Linked DNA regions of Homo sapiens: region 1 is linked to region 2. A link means that fine-mapping ties the variant in region 2 to the expression of a gene that starts in the linked region. Tissue or cell type: whole blood. Region 2 holds a variant in brackets; the other region holds the start of a gene. All regions are shown on one strand. Distances are between the middles of the regions.

What was found. PIP is the estimated chance that this variant, and not a neighbour inherited with it, causes the effect.
Region 1: ARAP2 starts here. The variant in region 2 is fine-mapped to the expression of ARAP2 in whole blood (TOPMed, PIP 0.95).

Annotation. Positions count from the first base shown.
Region 1 is chr4:36,238,158-36,248,062 of GRCh38, forward strand. It overlaps ARAP2 (ArfGAP with RhoGAP domain, ankyrin repeat and PH domain 2), which reads right to left and starts at 6,357. Exons shown (of 33, transcript NM_015230.4): 1 at 6,022-6,357. It overlaps LOC439933 (a long non-coding RNA gene), which reads left to right and starts at 5,959. Exons shown (of 5, transcript NR_122079.1): 1 at 5,959-6,054; 2 at 7,015-7,153. RefSeq lists a silencer at 6,153-6,732.
Region 2 is chr4:36,061,751-36,069,750 of GRCh38, forward strand. It overlaps ARAP2 (ArfGAP with RhoGAP domain, ankyrin repeat and PH domain 2), which reads right to left. Exons shown (of 33, transcript NM_015230.4): 33 at 4,254-6,528. The coding sequence ends at 6,157. It also overlaps the pseudogene LOC651644. Among named protein-coding and RNA genes, the nearest start is that of ARAP2, 180 kb to the right of the region's middle. The variant A/G (reference allele first, on the strand shown) is at 4,914.

The DNA.
Region 1 (9,905 bases), 180 kb after region 2:
GGTCATCTCTTTAAATTGTGGTCACTCACAGGCTCTGACCTCCTCTGTACCCTGTTCTCTACCTCAACCACTACTTCTTTCCCACCCACCAAAACACATCCATCTTCTTTCATTCTCCCTCAGAATGACATTGATAATAATAATAACCAGTAGTTGTGGATGTTTGCAAACCATTTTTGTAGGACCTCATTTACTCCTCACAGCTGCAGAGGAGGAAAATCCGACGCTGAATGTCACGCAATAGATAAACAGTGGAAACACTAACTTAAGTGTTTCTAAGAGTCAGACTCCACAACCTGTGCTATAAACTGTAAAGCCTCATAGTAGATATAAAATTGATTTAATAGTAAAGAGGTAGCAAAGACTTAATAGTCTCCCTCTCCTTTGTCTAGCTGTTCATAAGGGCTTATATTCACACTAGGGAAATGCTGTTTAAATATACCATATCTTGCAAATTCAAGTTTTATACACCATTTAAGTTTGATATGTGTCCATGTACGTGGCTAAACCTGGAAGCCTACATTCATTTACATTTAATTGCCTGAGAGTTGAGAGCCAATGACAAATTAAGGGAGAACATCTTTGTAATTGCTATATAAAGCAATGGTAATGTAGAATTTAGTCTATTAAAATTTATTTTGCATCTATCACTGCAGAAAGACAGCTAACACAGGACTATAGTACAATTGATATAATGCAACAATATGAAGCCAAAATCAAATAATCAAATATGACCAAAATAAGTATTCACTGCCCACATGAAGTCAATGGTTATGGTAAAAAACAAAAACAAAAACAAAAACAAATGTGCTTGACGAGAAAATAAAGTGTTAAGGCCAGGCATGGTGGCTCACGCCTGTAATCCCCATACACTTTGGGAGGCCAAGGTGGGTGGATCACCTGAGGTCAGGAGTTTGAGACCAGCCTGGCCAACATGGTGAAATCCCGTCTCTACTAAAAACACAAAAATTAGCAGGGCATGGTGGCACACACCTGTAATCCCAGCTACTTAGGAGGTTGAGACATGAGAATCGCTTGAACCCAGTGGGCGGAGGTTGCAGTGAGCCAATATCACGCCACTACAGGGACAGAGAAAGATGCTGTCTCAAAAAAAAAAAGAAGAGAAAGTATTAACACAAAAAAGATACCTGACTATGATCTTAAAGGTTTAACTTCAAATGTGGTGCAAAAGTAGATAAGGAGTGGAAGCAACCCAGATATCTATGAATGGATGAATGGATGAATGGATAAATAAAGTGTGGTATATACACAAAATGAAATACTAAGCAGCCTTAAAAAGGAATAAATACTGTCACATGCTACAATACAGATGAACCTTGAAGGTCATTATGCTAAGTGAAAAAACAGTCATAAAACAGACAAATACATGATTCCACTTACATAAGGTATCTACCGTAGTCAAATTCATAGAAAGTAGAACCATGATTACCAGAGAGGAGAAGAGAGGTAAGGAGTTGTTTAACAAGCATAGAGTTTCAGTTCTACCAACTGGAAATGGTCTGGAGATCTGTTTCACAGCATTGTAAATATACTTAGCGTTACTGAACTATACACTTTAAAATGATAAGACGGTAAATTTTATAGTATGTGTTATTTTTACCCAGTAAAAAAGGAGATCAGAAAACAGACTAGAAGATTTGGGCCAGTCTCTCAGCTCTTATTCAAATGGAACTCCCTGTACATACCTGGACTTTTTTTCTCTCCTTTGGGAGCCAATTCAAGTCTTACAAGTATGGTAACACCACATTCGTGAGGCTTCCCTGCCTATCCCATCCCTCCTCAATCCCTTATTAGTTCCACCCAGGCAGTAGTATAGATAGCACAATGCCCGAATTCCAGTCCAGGCTTCCCCACTTTTTAACTATGTAACTTAAGTTATTTAACTTCCCTGAAGCTTGTTTTTCTCATTTATAAAATGAGGGTAATATACCCTATATCGTATAGTATTTCTATTAGAATTAAACAAGTAAAAATTTAAGATATATAAGAATACCTGACATGAGTTACAACTGCACCATAAACGTTGGCTAATATTAATTCACCCATTGTATACAATATTGCCTTTAATCATATTCATACCACTATATTGCACTTGGTTTGAATGGAATTCTTCGGTCTGCATAGTAGTATTACATTCCTTTAAATTATCACTGTAAATCATTCTTCTAATAAACCCACAATGCACCTAACACAGCAGTTAACATAGTTTTATTAATGTAGTAACGTATACATGTAGTTAGAGTTGTAAGAATGATGATAATTTCACCTGAAGACTTAACACCTGGGACACAAAGCACAGTGATTTACCAGGGATTCCAGCTCTGCCATGTGCTACCTGTGTGGCCTTGGGAGAATTCCTCTCTTTTCCTGAGCCTCACTGTTGTCATTTGTAAGCAGGGAAAATAATAGTGCCTACCTCACGGGGATATTTTGAGGATGAAATGAGCGCATATGCATTAAAATCTTAGAACAGTGCCTGGTAAGCAACAAGCATTTAATTAGTGTCTTCTGGATGGAGAATAATGGAAATTTTAGCTGAAAATAGGTAGGCTCTGGGCAAAATCATTTCATAGCTTTGATCAAGGAGTAAGGATTGTCTAAGCTATGTTTTGATTATTTTACTTATAGCACAATCTGAAAAACACAATAAAAAAACCTAAAACTTAAAAACAATTTCCATCCAGTGAAGGCCACAAGTACAAATTCCTTTACTTAGTATAAGAACATATTAGTAGCATAGGAGGTACCTAGGTTTAGGTGTTCTGGATAATATCGCAATAGTTAAATGCTTGATAATCTCCTTAGCTTCTGTAAGTCTTTTCCTTTCAAGCTGTCCATCCAGATTTTAAGTTAATTCACTAAGATTTGAGAATTTTTAAAAATTCTAATGTAGAGAGATCCCTAAGGTAAAGCCATAATTCTTGGGATATCAGAGAATAATTTATTCTTCTAGAGTTTCTACAAAAGCAGAATTTTAAAACTTTTGTATAAGTGTATATACTCCACCATTTCTCTGAATGTAAGTCATATTTTTAGACAAACAACCAGATGTTTCAGAATAGCCTACTGTGTTTCCTCTCTTTGCATTTATAAATAGTACTCTGACCTCTTTTCCAACTGAGTTTGAGGGTTTATTCCTATTGGTTTAGCAATTGTCAAAGTTTCTTTTTCTTATAAAAAGAGGGCATTTCAGAAAACGTCTCCTACCTTACTGGACCATTTTTTAACATGTATTCATTCAATATATATTAAGCAACACTACTCGCTCCAAGATAAGAGAGGGAGATATTTGGTGTTCAAGATAACAGCCTCTACTGTCTCATTTGACAACAGTGCTAAGGGCTACAAAGAAAGTGAAGATACAGTCTTCCCTCCAAGAGTTTACAATCTAAAAGGGTAGATGAGACATGACTATAAGAAAAGGTAAATGGCACGTATATGAACAATCAGTTCATTATTACTCAGTAAGTGCCAATAAACAATACCAAAGACACCACAAAAAAACAACTTTTTGCAAAGAATTTGATATATTCCAAAAAAAACACTTAAATTGTAATGGTGAGAAAAATCCAATTTTATGACCCTAATTTCCACATGGTTTTATATTTTAGTATTGTTTTAAATACATGGAGAAGTGGCCCCATCATCCTTCATGAGTTCTCAGGAACTCTAAAAAATCTCAAATCTGCCACCTAAACCACTGCTTCAACCCAAATCAGGCCTCCTTTGTTTTCTCTGCAGCATGGGTAAATAAGTAAGCTTGTGCTGAACAGAAACTGAAACAAAATTTCACAGGACAACTTTCTAACTAGAAAAGATCACGTGAGGAGAATACCATTAAGTACTGCTTCATTTAAAGAAGAAACAAGTGAGCAAAATGGTTTAACTACCATTATATATTTAATCTGGCCAATACTTACAAGTAATAACTAAAATGATAAATTACAAGGTCCAGAACTTTGCAGAAAAGATTAAGACAGCGTCTCATAGCCTCTAATCTCACATCCACCATATGTGGTCAAAGCTAAGACATATTTCCCAGATTATTAAGAAGTTCTCTACCTAATTAATATTTCACCAAGAATTCCCAAAACTCTTACAATGTAGCATGTGCAAAGATTGTATCCAAGAAATGTATCAATAAATAAATGAGGACAGGTGGAAATGTATGCTAAAAGAAAACTATTAAAGCAATGACTATTATTTATACTTAGCATTTTTATAGTCACTTTCACCAAACTTTCTCACAGTTGCAGGGAGGTGGGTTAGAAAGTAACAAAACGAAACAACAACAACAACAAAAAACTTCTCATATATCATGAAGTCTATAACCCAGAATTCTACGTAGACTTTAAAACTTCATAGTTTCAATGCGTTAAAGTTCTTAAGAAAACTGTAATTCATTATAATCTGAGTTCTATACTTCTCCACAGTATCCAAGAATAGTTGGATCTGATATTATTGCATATCCATGAGCCTTACACTGCAAGGAGCTTGCAGTGATATTAGAAAAACAAGAATTTGTTTTTAAACGTACCATCAGCTTCTCCTTTTACAGACAAGCCACATAAAATCTGACAGGTTTACAGACGAAGGAAAAAATACAAACACAAGCACACACCCATATAAATACGTTTTAACAAGCTCTCTCACTTACCCTCTAGGTACATTTTAATTCAAATAAATCTTTGAGTACTGACAAATCTATATAAAACCCTCTTCGTGTTAGGAACCACCTTAAATGTGTATGTGTTAAATATGTTTAGAAAGAAGCCAGGAAGATATTTGCACTTAACCCTAGCCTAGTTCCATGACCCACTTTTTTTTCTTCTTTAAACGTTGTTGGACAAAAAATGTCATGAGTATTTTCTCTCAATATTTCTCCTGTAAGTGTATGGAAGTCATAAATAAGAGTTAAAAAAAAAAGAGTTTAAAGGTATTTCTCTTTTTTTCCTTAAAAAAAGTTAGCTTGCTTTTTATCTTCCAATTACTTACGGGCAAAGTTCCATGGGCCTGTGGGGGTGTAGAGTGCTTAAGTGCAGATAAATCAATACTGAGCTTGTAAGTACAATACTATTATGAGTAATAACAATGACATCCTATTAAATGTACTTTTAAAAATAGCTTATTTTCAATACACTTCTTGATTTTTTTTAAACCGAAGGCTGTATTCTACTGAACAGCCTACTTCAAGGACAAGCTTGCAAAAAAAAAAAAAAAAAAAAAAAGAATTTGCTATCAGGATACCTACTTACAACACCCTAAGATGTCATTATTCCACACAAATTAGCTTATTTTCTTGTGTTTTCCTCTAATTATCAAAGGCTATATAATCCACGAACCCTTTCCCCAAATCAAAATAACTCCAGATCACCTCAAGGTAGGAGGTGTTTAAGAAAACAAGCCAGAATTAGATAAAGTAAAACTTACTTTATTAAATAGGATGGACACCACTTCTCCCAAGAGAACTGTCTCCAAAAGTAAACAAGAAAGATCAATCTGGTAAACTCACATCATACAGGTTCCCGTGTAAGGTATCGGGTTCAGGCAGGTGGAAGCCAAATGATCGTAATTAAAGTTAATTAACAGGCCAGTCGTCTTAACGTGGTTAACAAGCAGGGTGCGGGGCAGCACAGACACCCGGGCAAATTCATGATCTCTACCGAGTAAATAACTTGGTGCCTGAAACTCACTACAGCTTCTTCTTATTTAAAGGTAGGGGAGAGGAATGGAGGGAGTGTCCAGCTGTCTATCCGGATCCTCACCCTCCCGGGTCAAATCCCAGAAGTGGAGTTCTTGGATCACTTACCGGCTTCTGGTTTCCTTTCAGACGCCCACACGCGGGAGCGAAATCCAAGGGGCGGACACCAGAGCCGAGCACTTTGCGCTGAGGAAATTTACCCGGTGAAGTGTCGAAAAGCCCCAGCCCCTCCAGACAGGGTCCTCCCACCCCCGCGTGGGCCATCCCGGCCCAGCCTTCCCGAGGCCCCGGGTACTCGCCTTGCGCTCGGGTCGCGGAGTTCGAAAAGCGAGGTGAGGCGGCGCTGGGAAGCTCAGCGCCGGCGTCTCTCCCAGCCTTGGGCGCTCGGTCCTCGCCCCTCTGCCGGAGGCGCCAGGCCTCCTCTTTCCCGGTCCCCGCCGGCTGTCCGCAGTCGCCTCTGCTGCCTGGCGGCGGCCGCGCGGGCGGCGCTGTTAGTGGGGCCGGCGTGTCGCGGCCGCCGCACCTGGAGGCGGGGAGCGCGGGCCGCGGACCCGCGCTCAGCTCCGGAAACGCCGAGCCCGGCGCCCGCGCCTTGCTCAGGTGCTCCCGCGCCTCGCCTCGGCCGCCGCTTCCTCTCCGCCCGCGGGGGCGGGGAGCAGGCGCCCCGCGCGGGGGAAGCCGGAGCTCAACGGCGGGGGCGGCCCAGCCGGCCTCCCTGGTTCCGCAGCATAGTTGGGTGACTGACTCAGACCGCCGCGACTTGGCCGCGCCTGGCACCCTCGCCACCTGGCGCACCTCGGCCCGGAGGCGTCAGACCCCGCTGGGGAAGCTGCGGGGGCGCGCCCTGGAGCCCAGAGCGACAGGGGCATTACCCACCTTCCCGGGACGGAGATGCCCAGGACCTTGTGTTGGCTCCTCCTGGCCAGTGGGTTTGTCTGTGCGCACTCATGGGGGGTTGAATGTCAAATGGGCGGAACCTCGCCACGACTGATTATTAGTATTACTCTTCCAAGTACTTAAAGTGTTAGCTCAGCGTTTCCCAAACTGAAGACTCATCTAGGGCACTATTTTCCCCAGGCTGCTTCTATGTAAATTTGCTCCTTCTTGCACCTGTGGCGGTTAGATCCCAGAGGGGCATTTCCCCTTTGAGTTGGACTCTGACAAAGGAGGCAGCGAAGGAAAATAGGGGATCCCAAAGAACCCTTGTGGACCTCCAAATATCTAAGCGTCCGTAAAATCCAGTTATTTGCAAGTGAGTTCACAGACCAACTACTTTTTTTTTTTTTTTTTAGACAGGGTCTCACTTTGTCACCCAGGCTGGAGTGTAGTGAGGCAATCTCAGCTCATTGCGCCTCCGCCTCTGGGTCCAAGCTATCCTCCCACGTCAGCCTCCCAGGTAGCTGGGATTACAGGCGCGCACCATCAGCCAAGGTAATTTTTTTTGTATTTTTGGTATAGACGGAGTTTCGCCTTGTTGCCCAGGCTGGTCTCAAACTCCTGACCTCAAGTGATCCACCTGCCTCGGCCTCCCAAAGTGCTGGGATTACAGGCGTGAGACACTGCCCCCTACCAGCTTTTTTTTTTTTTTTTATAAACATCTCCCACAGACTACCTGAAATTCTCTTCATTAAAAGGTGAAATGTATTTATCTTTCCCCTGTTCCTGTTGATGGAAGTGAAGCAATTAAGGAAAGCGCAGACCTTATGAAAATGAGATAATTGGTGAAGTGCGGAAAGAGAGAGGCTTCCCACAAGCCTGGGCCCTTAGGATTCTTCAGTCATCACCTTCACCCACACTAACTACCTGCCCAAAGCACCGTCTTTCCCTGGGGAGACTCTGAAGCAGCTCTGTCTTACTAGAGACACCAAATATCCAGTTCCTTTTGAACTTAATACCTCATAGCCGACCTCATTTCCACCAGGAAAGTTTTATTGACATTTTCCAAACCACGGGAACTTTTTCTCTGGATTCCTATAGCATTTATAGGAGGAATTTTATTTATGTGGCTCTTTTCTGGCTTCATTCTCTGTGTGTGTGTGTTTCTTTTGTTCTTTTTCCCTTTTCCCTCTCCAAATTCTCACATACTTCTCTCTTTTTTTTTATCTCTCTCTTTTTTGTTTTTGTTTTTGTTTTCGACTGAGCCCCGCTGTATCGCCCAGGCTGGAGCGTGGAGAGCAGTGGCGCGATCTCAGCTCACTGCAGCCTCCGCCTCCTGGGTTCAAGCCATTCTCCCGCCTCAGCCTCCTGAGTAGCTGGGATTACAGGCATGCACCACCACGCCTAGCTAATTTTCGTGTTTTTAGTAGAGGCAGGGTTTCACCATGTTGGCCAGGGTGGTCTGAAACTCATGGCCTCAAGTGATTCGCCTGCGTTGGCCTCCAGAAGTGCTGAGATTACAGGCGTGAGCCACCATGCCTGGCTCTATTTTTATCATTGTAAGCCATCTTCGGTCCTTCTCTAAACAAGGTGGGTTATAAATAAAAATTATTAGATCAGTTATCTTATGTGTGGGAGGTTCAATCATTGCTTTGTCCTCAAGTTACTTCGCTTGGTAGATTTTATAAACTAATTGAGAAATTGTCTCTCTCCCTCTTCGCAAAAATATCTTAGTTCTTTGATTATTATTCAGTCATTTATTCTTTAAAAATTATTAATCACTGTTTGGCATTTTGAAAATACAGTGTTTAGCAAATACAATGCAATCTCTGGATTTATGTTTTCTGAGGGGAAATAAAGGTAAATGCTACAAGGTACAACAATGACTTCATAATAGCCCTGGGAAATAAAGAAGAACAATGCTCACTTATTGAATGTATACATTAGTTATAAGATGTATTCTGGTTTAATGAATCTTAATATATGGAGGAAAATAAAAATGTCTGAGGAAATACGGCAAAAGCTATCTTTTATTAATTGATCGATAGTCACCAGACTCTAGTCAAATACCTAACATATATGCTGTGTATACACAACGTGTGTGAGTTAAAATTCTTTTTTCAATTTTATAAATATAGGTTTAATTGAAACTTAAAGAGGTTAAGTAGTAAATAGTGAATACATTGAATACATTTAGGCTATATTCTTAGGGTATAAATTTTTTATTTTGCAACCTTCACAGTGAGGTATTCAGAGAGCAAAGTACACAGGGAAATTGGCTTTACAAGGATTAAGGTATGGGCCAGGCACAGTGGCTCAGGCCTGTAATCTCAGCACTTTGGGAGGCAGAGGCGGGCAGATAACCTGAGGTCTGGAGTTCGAGACCAGCCTGGCCAACATGGCGAAACCCCATCTCTACTAAAAATACAAAAAAATTAGCTGGACATGGTGGTGCATGCCTGTAATCCCAGCTACTCAGGAGGCTGAGGCAGGAGAATCGCTTGAACCTGGGAGGTGGAGGTTGCAGTGAGCCGAGATTGCACCATTGCACTCCAGACTCCAGCCTGGACAATGAGACTGAAACTCCATCCCCTCCCCTCCAAAAAAAAAAAAAAAAAAGGTAAGAAAATATGTTTAATCTCAAGACCATTGGAACATATATTCCCAGTAATTTTCATCTAGGCTGAAATGATTCCACAATGACGAGCTCCTGCACATTTTTCCCAGATTTTTAGTAAAAAAGCAGGTAAAGATGTGTCTGTGCCTATCTATGTATTTACTATTGTGATCTCTTGTTGCTTTACTTGTCGAGGAGACAATTTGAGAGAGTGAAAATCTTCCTCCTCTCCTCCTCCTCCTCACTCTCTCCTCTCTCCCTCCTTTTCCTCCTTCTACTTTTTCTTACAACATGATGGCTAATACCCATTGAGCACTGTGTGCCAATTGCTGTTCCAGGCATTTTAATTACAAGAGCTCATTTAAGTATCTCAGCAGTTCCTTGGAGAGATGTTATCTCCTTTATAAGAAAACTTAAGAGACAGAAAAATTGAATGCTTTACACAAATCAAACAATTAGGACTGTACGGGAGGGAGAATTCCAACCCAGTCTTCTCCAGGATCTATTCTGCACTGTATTGTGTCTTGAAGAAAGTAGAAGGCTTGGAAAAGGCTGCATTCAAGATGGAACCAGTATAGGTTGCGGCATTTTTTTAAGCAAATTCATTAACTTACCTGAGCCTCAGTTTCCCCATATGTAAACTGAGAATAATAATACCTATGAGAATTTAATATGATTATATATCTACAG
Region 2 (8,000 bases):
AGTAATTGTACTTACATTCCCACCAAGAAGTTTCCCTTTTCGCCACAATCTCACCAGCATTTATGATTGACTGTTTTGGGGGTATAAACAATTTTAACTTAGGTGAGATGATTTCTGATTGTAGTTTTGATTTGCATTTTTCTGCCAACTTATGTTGAGCATCTTTTCATCTTCCTGTTTCCCATTTGTATGTCTTCTTTTAAGAAGGGTATATTCAAATCTTTGCCAACTTTTAATCAAATTATTAGATTTTTTCCTGTACAATTGTTGAGCTTGTTATTTATTCTGGTTATTAATCCCTTGACAGTTGGATAGTTTGCAAATATTTTTTGCCATTCTGTGGATTGTCTCTTCACTTTGCTGGTTGTTCTCTTTGCTATGCAGAAGTTTTTAACCTGATGTGATCCCATTTGTCCATTTTTGCTTTGGTTGCCTGTGCTTATGGGGATATTACTCAAGAAATTTTTGCCCAGCCCGTTGTCCTAAAAAGTTTCCTCAATGCACCATGTTGCTGCTGCTAGGGGGTTGGGGAGGAATGGTGTTGATTCAAGACCGTATTTTCTACCCCTTCAGTGCCTCCTTCAGTGATAAGAAGTTAAAACCAGGTACTGTGAGTGCTCATCTGAGTTTTGGTTCATATGAAGTTTGTTTTCTGTGTAGATAGTTATTAGGTTGGTGTCCTTTAGTGAAGGACAGTTGGAAGAGCCTTCTATTACACCGTCTTGATCTGCCTGCTAGAAGCGGTTTTGAAAACCATTAGGGTCAACTAAGATCAAATGAGAGCTAGGAGGACTAATACATTAATAACTAACATTTATTGTATCTCTACTATGCTGCTATATATGTATCTATTTCATATACCTGGCTCGTAATTTGTGTGAGAGTGTGTGTGTGTGTGTGTGTGTGTGTGTGTATAAAACAGTTGTTGAAAAAAGTCAACAAGTTAACATTCCTACTTCTCAGATGAGGACATTTGGGCTCTGAACTTTAACTCATAAAAAGGGTTAAATCTGCAGAGGTATCTCAATTATCAAAACTTTTATATTCAACATATAGTGGCTGTGGCAGAAAAGGGGTAATACAATGTAATTTGTAATATTTTAAATAAAAAATGTTAAAATAATTATACAACTTAAAAACATAAACTTTAATTACCTGATTCATTTCTGTGCTTTGCATTTCCTGATCATTAGAAATTAAATGTGATGATTGTACACATGACAGAAAAATGGTCACATTTTACAACTAATTCTGCCTTAACTAATTGGTAACAGTGAAACAGTAGAAAAACTAACATAACTAACTCCATTTTTTGTTAAAGGGGTCTTTACCTATTCCTGCTCACAGGCTAATTTTAGAGCACTGAGAAAAAATTCAAAGAAAACAGTCATGTAGTTTTCTTAACTAACTCTGTGATTAAAGGAAAAGTATGTAAACAGCTATGTTTTGTTAAAGATTTGCAGAAGCAAACACCGCATGTTCTCACTCACAGGTGGGAATTGAACAATGAGAACACTTGAACACAGGGCTGGGAACATCACACACTGGGGCCTGTCAGGAGGTGGGGGGTTGGGGGAGGGATAGCATTAGGAGAAATACCTAATGTAAATGACAAGTTAATGGGTGCAGCAAACCAACATGACACACGTATACCTATGTAACAAACTTGCACGTTGTGCACATGTACCCTAGAACTTAAAATTTAAAAAAAGAAAAAAAAAAAAAAGAGATTTGCAGAAGCATTGTGACCTGACCATGGACGAAGCAGCTCCAGCTGCCTCAAACTCTGACTAGTATCCAAATTTCTGCGGTTGTGGCGCACATCTTGATCCCAACCCTTTCCTCTTCCTGCTACCCTAAACATAAAAACAGCTTGAAATTTGTACCGACTTAAAATGGTACTTTAGGTCACTAGTTGGCCATCTTCTTGGTTTGCTGGCTTTCCAAAATAAAGTTGCCTTCCTTGTTCCTTGTTCCACCTCCTTAACTTACTGGCTGTTGTGAGGCAAGCAAAATGAGTTTGGGGTTGGTTACAAGTTCATTTGAGTAAGGAAGAATATGTAAGTCTTCATGCAAATTTTGTTAAGATGGTGAAAGTTTTAATCTTCTTCCTAAAGTGATTATTAAAACTTTAAAAAGATGCAAATATCTGCATGCTACAACCTGTTCAAATACATTTAATGCATTTACAAAATTGCTTTTGCATTATATTTTTGAATTAAAAATTATGCAATTCAGCAGCTAATATAGTTACGTTCATAAGTCATATTTTTGCTTCAATTATTTTTGTTTGATTTTGAGTTCTCAGTGACACTTTGATGAATCATCAGGTAATGATTTCTTTAGAAATCAAATATTTAAAAACCATGTCTAATAATTAATTTTAGGGCTACAGAAATAAAATTGAGAGTGCCTTTGAGCACTTTGAGTGCTTTGCTTTTTTGTTTTTTTCTTTCTTTTTTTTTTTTTTTCCTGTGACTAAGCCTTCATTATGCAAGCCTGAGTCCCAACCTCAGGTCTGCACTGGTTGTGGAGGAATTCTCCTCCTTAGAGGTGGAAATAAGCCACCTCTGACCCTACCACCTCCTATTCCCAGCCACACCCAAAGTCTCAACACAGGTTCTGGGCTGGGGGAGGGGAGAACCAAGTGGCCTAGCCAGAGGCAGGGGCCAAGGTTGGATTTCAGAAAGTCCTCTTGATGGAAGTGGGCTCCTGTCCCTGCAGGTAGTGAATGGGGTGGCAGGACTTGCTGGCCCAGTTTGGGCACAGGGATACTACTTGGTTAAATGAATGGTGAGAGATTGAAGGGTGGCCCTGGTCCTGCAGCTCAGGTGGGCTGCTCTGGCTGTGGGTGTACTCTGAGGTGGAGGGTCCCACAGGAATATGTGCAACCTGGTTCCCTGTGGGGAGGGACAGGTCAGGATAGGAGCTCTGGTGACCCCAGACCCTGATTTGCTATCCCTGGAGTTCTGCAGGCTGAAGTCCATGGACCCAGGTAGATGCAGTCACAGGGCATGGGCCCAGGCCTTTCACAGGCTCCCCACCTCTTGGGTCACTGCCTCTGCACAGAAGGAAAGAGAGAAGCCACCATAAAGGAGAGAAAAGACATTGGGGAAGGCAGAGATAAGAGAATAGAAAGGGTGGAGATGATGAGAAAGGAGACAAGGGGAGGACAAGAAGCAGGTAAAGGGAGATGAGGAGTCCAAGAACAGACAATAGAAGTGGGAGGTGGCTGTGAGAAGGCAGTGAGCTGGAGAGGGAGAAGGCAGAGGTCCTCTGGGAGAAGGAAGGGAGGGAGAGAAGGGCCAGGCAAGAGAGCCTTCAGAGTTGAGGTCCCCAGACTTGGGCTAGGCCTAGCGAGACGTGAGCTCCAATGACTTCTTCAGCCTCTTCTTCAGTTCCAGTGGGAAGTTCTTACACACGGGCTTCATGTCAAACTCCACAAACTTGATCTTCAGAGTGAGCCTGCTCTTGCAGGTGGAGCGGGAGAAGCAGTTCACACACATCAGGCCTTGTTGAGGGCCAACACCATGTCACCCTTGACCTCATGGCTGCAGCTACAGCAGATGTCCCAAAGAGCTGGCTGTAGTGGATCTCAAAGTAGGCCAGGCCCTTCTTCTCATAGTGCCAGGGCCCCAGGAATGGCTTCTCACACTCAGGGAAAAGAGCTCTGCATGCCACCACTCTTTGCCCAGTGTATTCACTATGTGGCCTTTGATGGGCTGGCTGCAGTCCCTAGAAATGGGGACAGCATCTTGTCAATGCAGGGCAGGCAGTAGAGTTCACCCTTCAGCTCATGGGCCTCACCAGTCAGCTCCTTCCTACAGTGGATGCAGCTGAAGTGGCCTGGGTGACAGGCACTGTTCCTGAACATGAGGGACTGCTCATGAATGACCAAGTGGCACTGCTGAGGTGCCAGACACTTGTGCCAGTCCCTTGGCCTTCTCATGGTGTGGCAAGGCTGGCAGAGATGCCTATAAACCAGGGGTGGTACTATGCATCTTGTAGGGATGTGGCTGGTCAGCAGCTTCTCGTCAATACAGGCCACAGAGCCTGTAATTGTGCCTGGTTCTCAGCAAGTGGGTCTTTAAATAAATAAAGCTACTTACAGTGACCTGTTTGGAAAAACAATACAGCCAGTTTGAAGTATATATTAAATTCAAATTTTTTTAAAAAGAAAAGAAAGCTAATCTATTTGATCTATTTCACAATAACAACCTTCAACTTCTGAAAATAATAAAGTCACATTCAAGTAGACTTGTAAAACAATTTTAATGTTTACTCAAAATAAATGAGATGTCATCATTAGCCCTTATCTCTCACACTTGAAAAATGGAGACAGTTGTTCAGAATAGAAAGGGAAACAGCTATTAGAGTTTAAGCTCAAGTTTCAAGAAGAATTCAGATAAGGCAGGTAAAAACTCTAGATACTTTTCCACTGTCCAACATCACCAAATATTAATTTCCACATACCTCTTTATTTCATAAAAATATAAATATTTATTAGAAATAGTATGTTTAAGATTAGTTTTTCTTTCTAAATAACATGATTTCTTGCTTTAAAGGAAGATTCCCTAATAGTGCCACCTATTTCATAAACTGTCCTGCAGTTTTGTGCTTTTTAAAAATTCTAATTTACTTTGATTTAAAGAATAAATATCTCATACCCATGGTGAACTATTTTATCACCCCAAAATACAAATGATCCGTATTTTACAATGAAGAAATTCATAGCATCTACCACCACATCACTGTACTATGATTGGACTGACTGAAGTATGGGCCTGTGAATATAGATTGAAAAATAAAAAAGAAATGCTAAAAAAAAAAAACTTAGCTACATAATGTTTAATATCAAAACTCACCAGACAATCCAATTTTAAAGAAACTGATGGAAAAATGCTTCCCCTAAC[A/G]TGAACTATGGTTAGATAGCATTGTCTGTCAGGAAATTCACCAATTCAGTAGCTGATCTTTATGTGGAAACAAAAATAGGGCTTTGTCCTTATTCATAAGTACAGGGAAGAGACCACACCTTTACTTAAAAAAAGAAAAAAAAACCTAGATTAAATGTGACCAGGTAGCCCCCAAATGTATAGTAAACCACCAACTAGCCCCTGGCTCCATAATGGCCATATATTGTATTCTTCCAGTTATTTCTGACAACTCGGAGAAAAACATTACAACCTTAATAATAATTTAAAAAAATCTAAAAATCAAACAAAACAACAGGACCCTGTGGTGATGAATTTTGTTCGTACCAAAAGTATAGTCAGAAATTCTGAAAAAAGACAAAATGCTTGCATACAATGACAGTGCAATCAGCATCCAGGCCAGGTCCTGTGTACACAACCTCTCCAATGCAGTGTAAGTTTCCTCTTAGCAGCCACCAACAATGAGCTCAAACGTAGTGAATCTGTAATGTGGCTGGTTTTCTAACACTATAAATATTAATAAGAGTGGCTAGTGCTATTATTTACATCTGTTGGCCGAATATTACTCTTGAGAAATAAACACTGGACTTTTTCTTAACAAGTGGTTTCTCATTGACAAGTTCTGGTCATTAGTGAACTAGAATGAATCTTAGCTCACTTCCTTGTTTTGCAGGACATTTAACTCCTTGCTTCTTTTAAAAACTCCAGTGGTTTTTAGGCAGCCACTACAATAAATTCTCCCCCCTTTTTCAATTTACTTCCCTTTCTTTTCCCTAAGGTAGAACTTCTGTAAACCTAAAAACATATGGTAATTTAATATACAAGGTTTCTCAAAGTGCAAAATATGTTACAGATAGTTTCTTAGGCTTCATTTAAACACAGCATTTTATACAATACAGTACAGTTTGAGATTTCTGCTCATAAATTATACCACTTAACAGACAACTACTTTAAAAGGACTGACCACCTAAGTAACCCAATGTCTTCTTACACACGTTAATACAATGGAACTTTACAAGGTTTGTTCAGACCAAAATAAAGTTAATCTTACATTCAGTCACATATATACATATTTTTAAATGCTCCTTAAATGCCTAAGCATAGACAAATTTGCCTATCAATAGGCAAATTCTTATGAATTATCTTATAGTTCAGTTTTGGAGTTACACATAAAGATTGCATACAATATTAAAAAAATAATCTGGGGAGCAATTCATTTTATTTCCTACTTCAAAATCTGCTCATCCTGTAATTCTTTTGGAAGGGTTCTTGACCGTTGTAGAACCACATTAAGTTCTTCAATTACCCTTGATGGTAACTTATGATCAGAGTCCAAAGTAGCTTTGCTATTCCTGTCCTCAGTCTTCCTCAATGTCTTTAGGCCTTTATGGCCTTTTGGTTGCCCAAGTGGGGCTTCAGGCTCTGTGTCCTCCAGGCAGTTGAAACTCCGATGTTTTCGGGGTCGATTTCGAAGTTTATCGTCCTTGTGCTCCAGGCAGTGGGCCACCATGGAAGCTCTCTCCTTTAAGCTAGAGTCCACGGACTCTTTATCACACTTTTCACTGAGCCGCAGCCTTTCAAGTTCTGCTCTTGCACTCTAAAAATAAAATTAAATGTCTCACAGGGAAGCAAGATTTGGCACAATTTAGGTTTAGAAAGTGCAATCCACATAAAAGTTGATGCTTCCTATAAAAGATCTCATTTCTATGACTTAGGTCCTAACTTTACTTCGATACAAGTGGCATGTCTGAATTTATATACTAATCTTAGAGCTACAAAATCAACTACAGACAGTCCCTGGCTTACAATGCCTCAATACGATTTTTTGACTTTACAGTGGTGAAAAACAAATATGCATGAAGTAGAAAGCATACTTCAAATTCTGAATTTCGATCTTTTCCCCGGTTAGTGATGCGCGGTAGGACACTCTCTCGTGATGATGGGCAGTGGCAATGAGCTGCAGCTTCCAGTCAGCCATGCACTCATGAGGGTGAAAAACTGATATGGCGTGCTGTGTTGCCAGATGATTCTGCCCCGCTGTAGGCTAATATAAATGTTCTGAGCACGTTTAAGCTAGGCTAGGCTAAGCTACAACATTCCATAGGTTAGGTGTATTTAACGCCTTTTTTATTTTATGTATGTTCACCTTATGGTGAGTTTATTGGTATGTAACCCCATCATAAGTTGAGGAACATCTGTAAAATGCAATCCATGGAAATTCATTTTAACATGCATTCAACATACCACTTCGAAGGTGTCTTTTGGGTTAGTTATTCAAATTGAATCTCACTTCATACTTGCCTCTTCTAACTCACTCCTGCTTAGATATGTCTAGCAAGGTTTCTATTTTTTTTTTCCTTTTGTTTAATTAGTTCACTGAAGTGTGAGCCTTGTACACACATAGGAAATGATCAATAAATATTTTTGAATGAGTAAATGAAGAAAAGTTTAAACAGTTTCCAGTATACAACACTGTTCTATTTTTCTTAATCTCAGTAGATCCAAACATAAATTTATAACAGAAAATTCAAGTGGAATAAAAATATTTTCATGAATATAATGTACAAATAATTTTGAAATTTGGAATTTTCTGGTAAGATTCTGATTATACATCTTAAGCTATATACATTTTTCCTACTCTGAAATTTATAGGAAGAAATGTTTAATATCTAGCTTAATTCCAAAGTTTCATTAGAATATGTTAAAATACTAAGAAAAATAGTGATGGTTGAACAATGTAAATACAACCAATGCCACTGAATTGTATGTATTTTTAAATAAAGTAGAAAATTCCATGATATATGTATTTTATCGCAAATGAAGTAAAAAAAAAACAAGACAGGGTTTATAAACAAACTTTAATCTTGTTAAAAAGTTTCACTCGGCATCTATTACTTGGGAAAAATTAAGGATAAATATAGAGAGGTTTTATATATCAGAGTGACAGTTCTCATCGTCTTTCAACCATCAGCATAAAAACTTTGGGACTCTCTTAGACACAGAATTTAAGGGCCAAGTAATAACATACATAATGCTGAAATTTCAAGTACACTACTGATATGGTTTGCA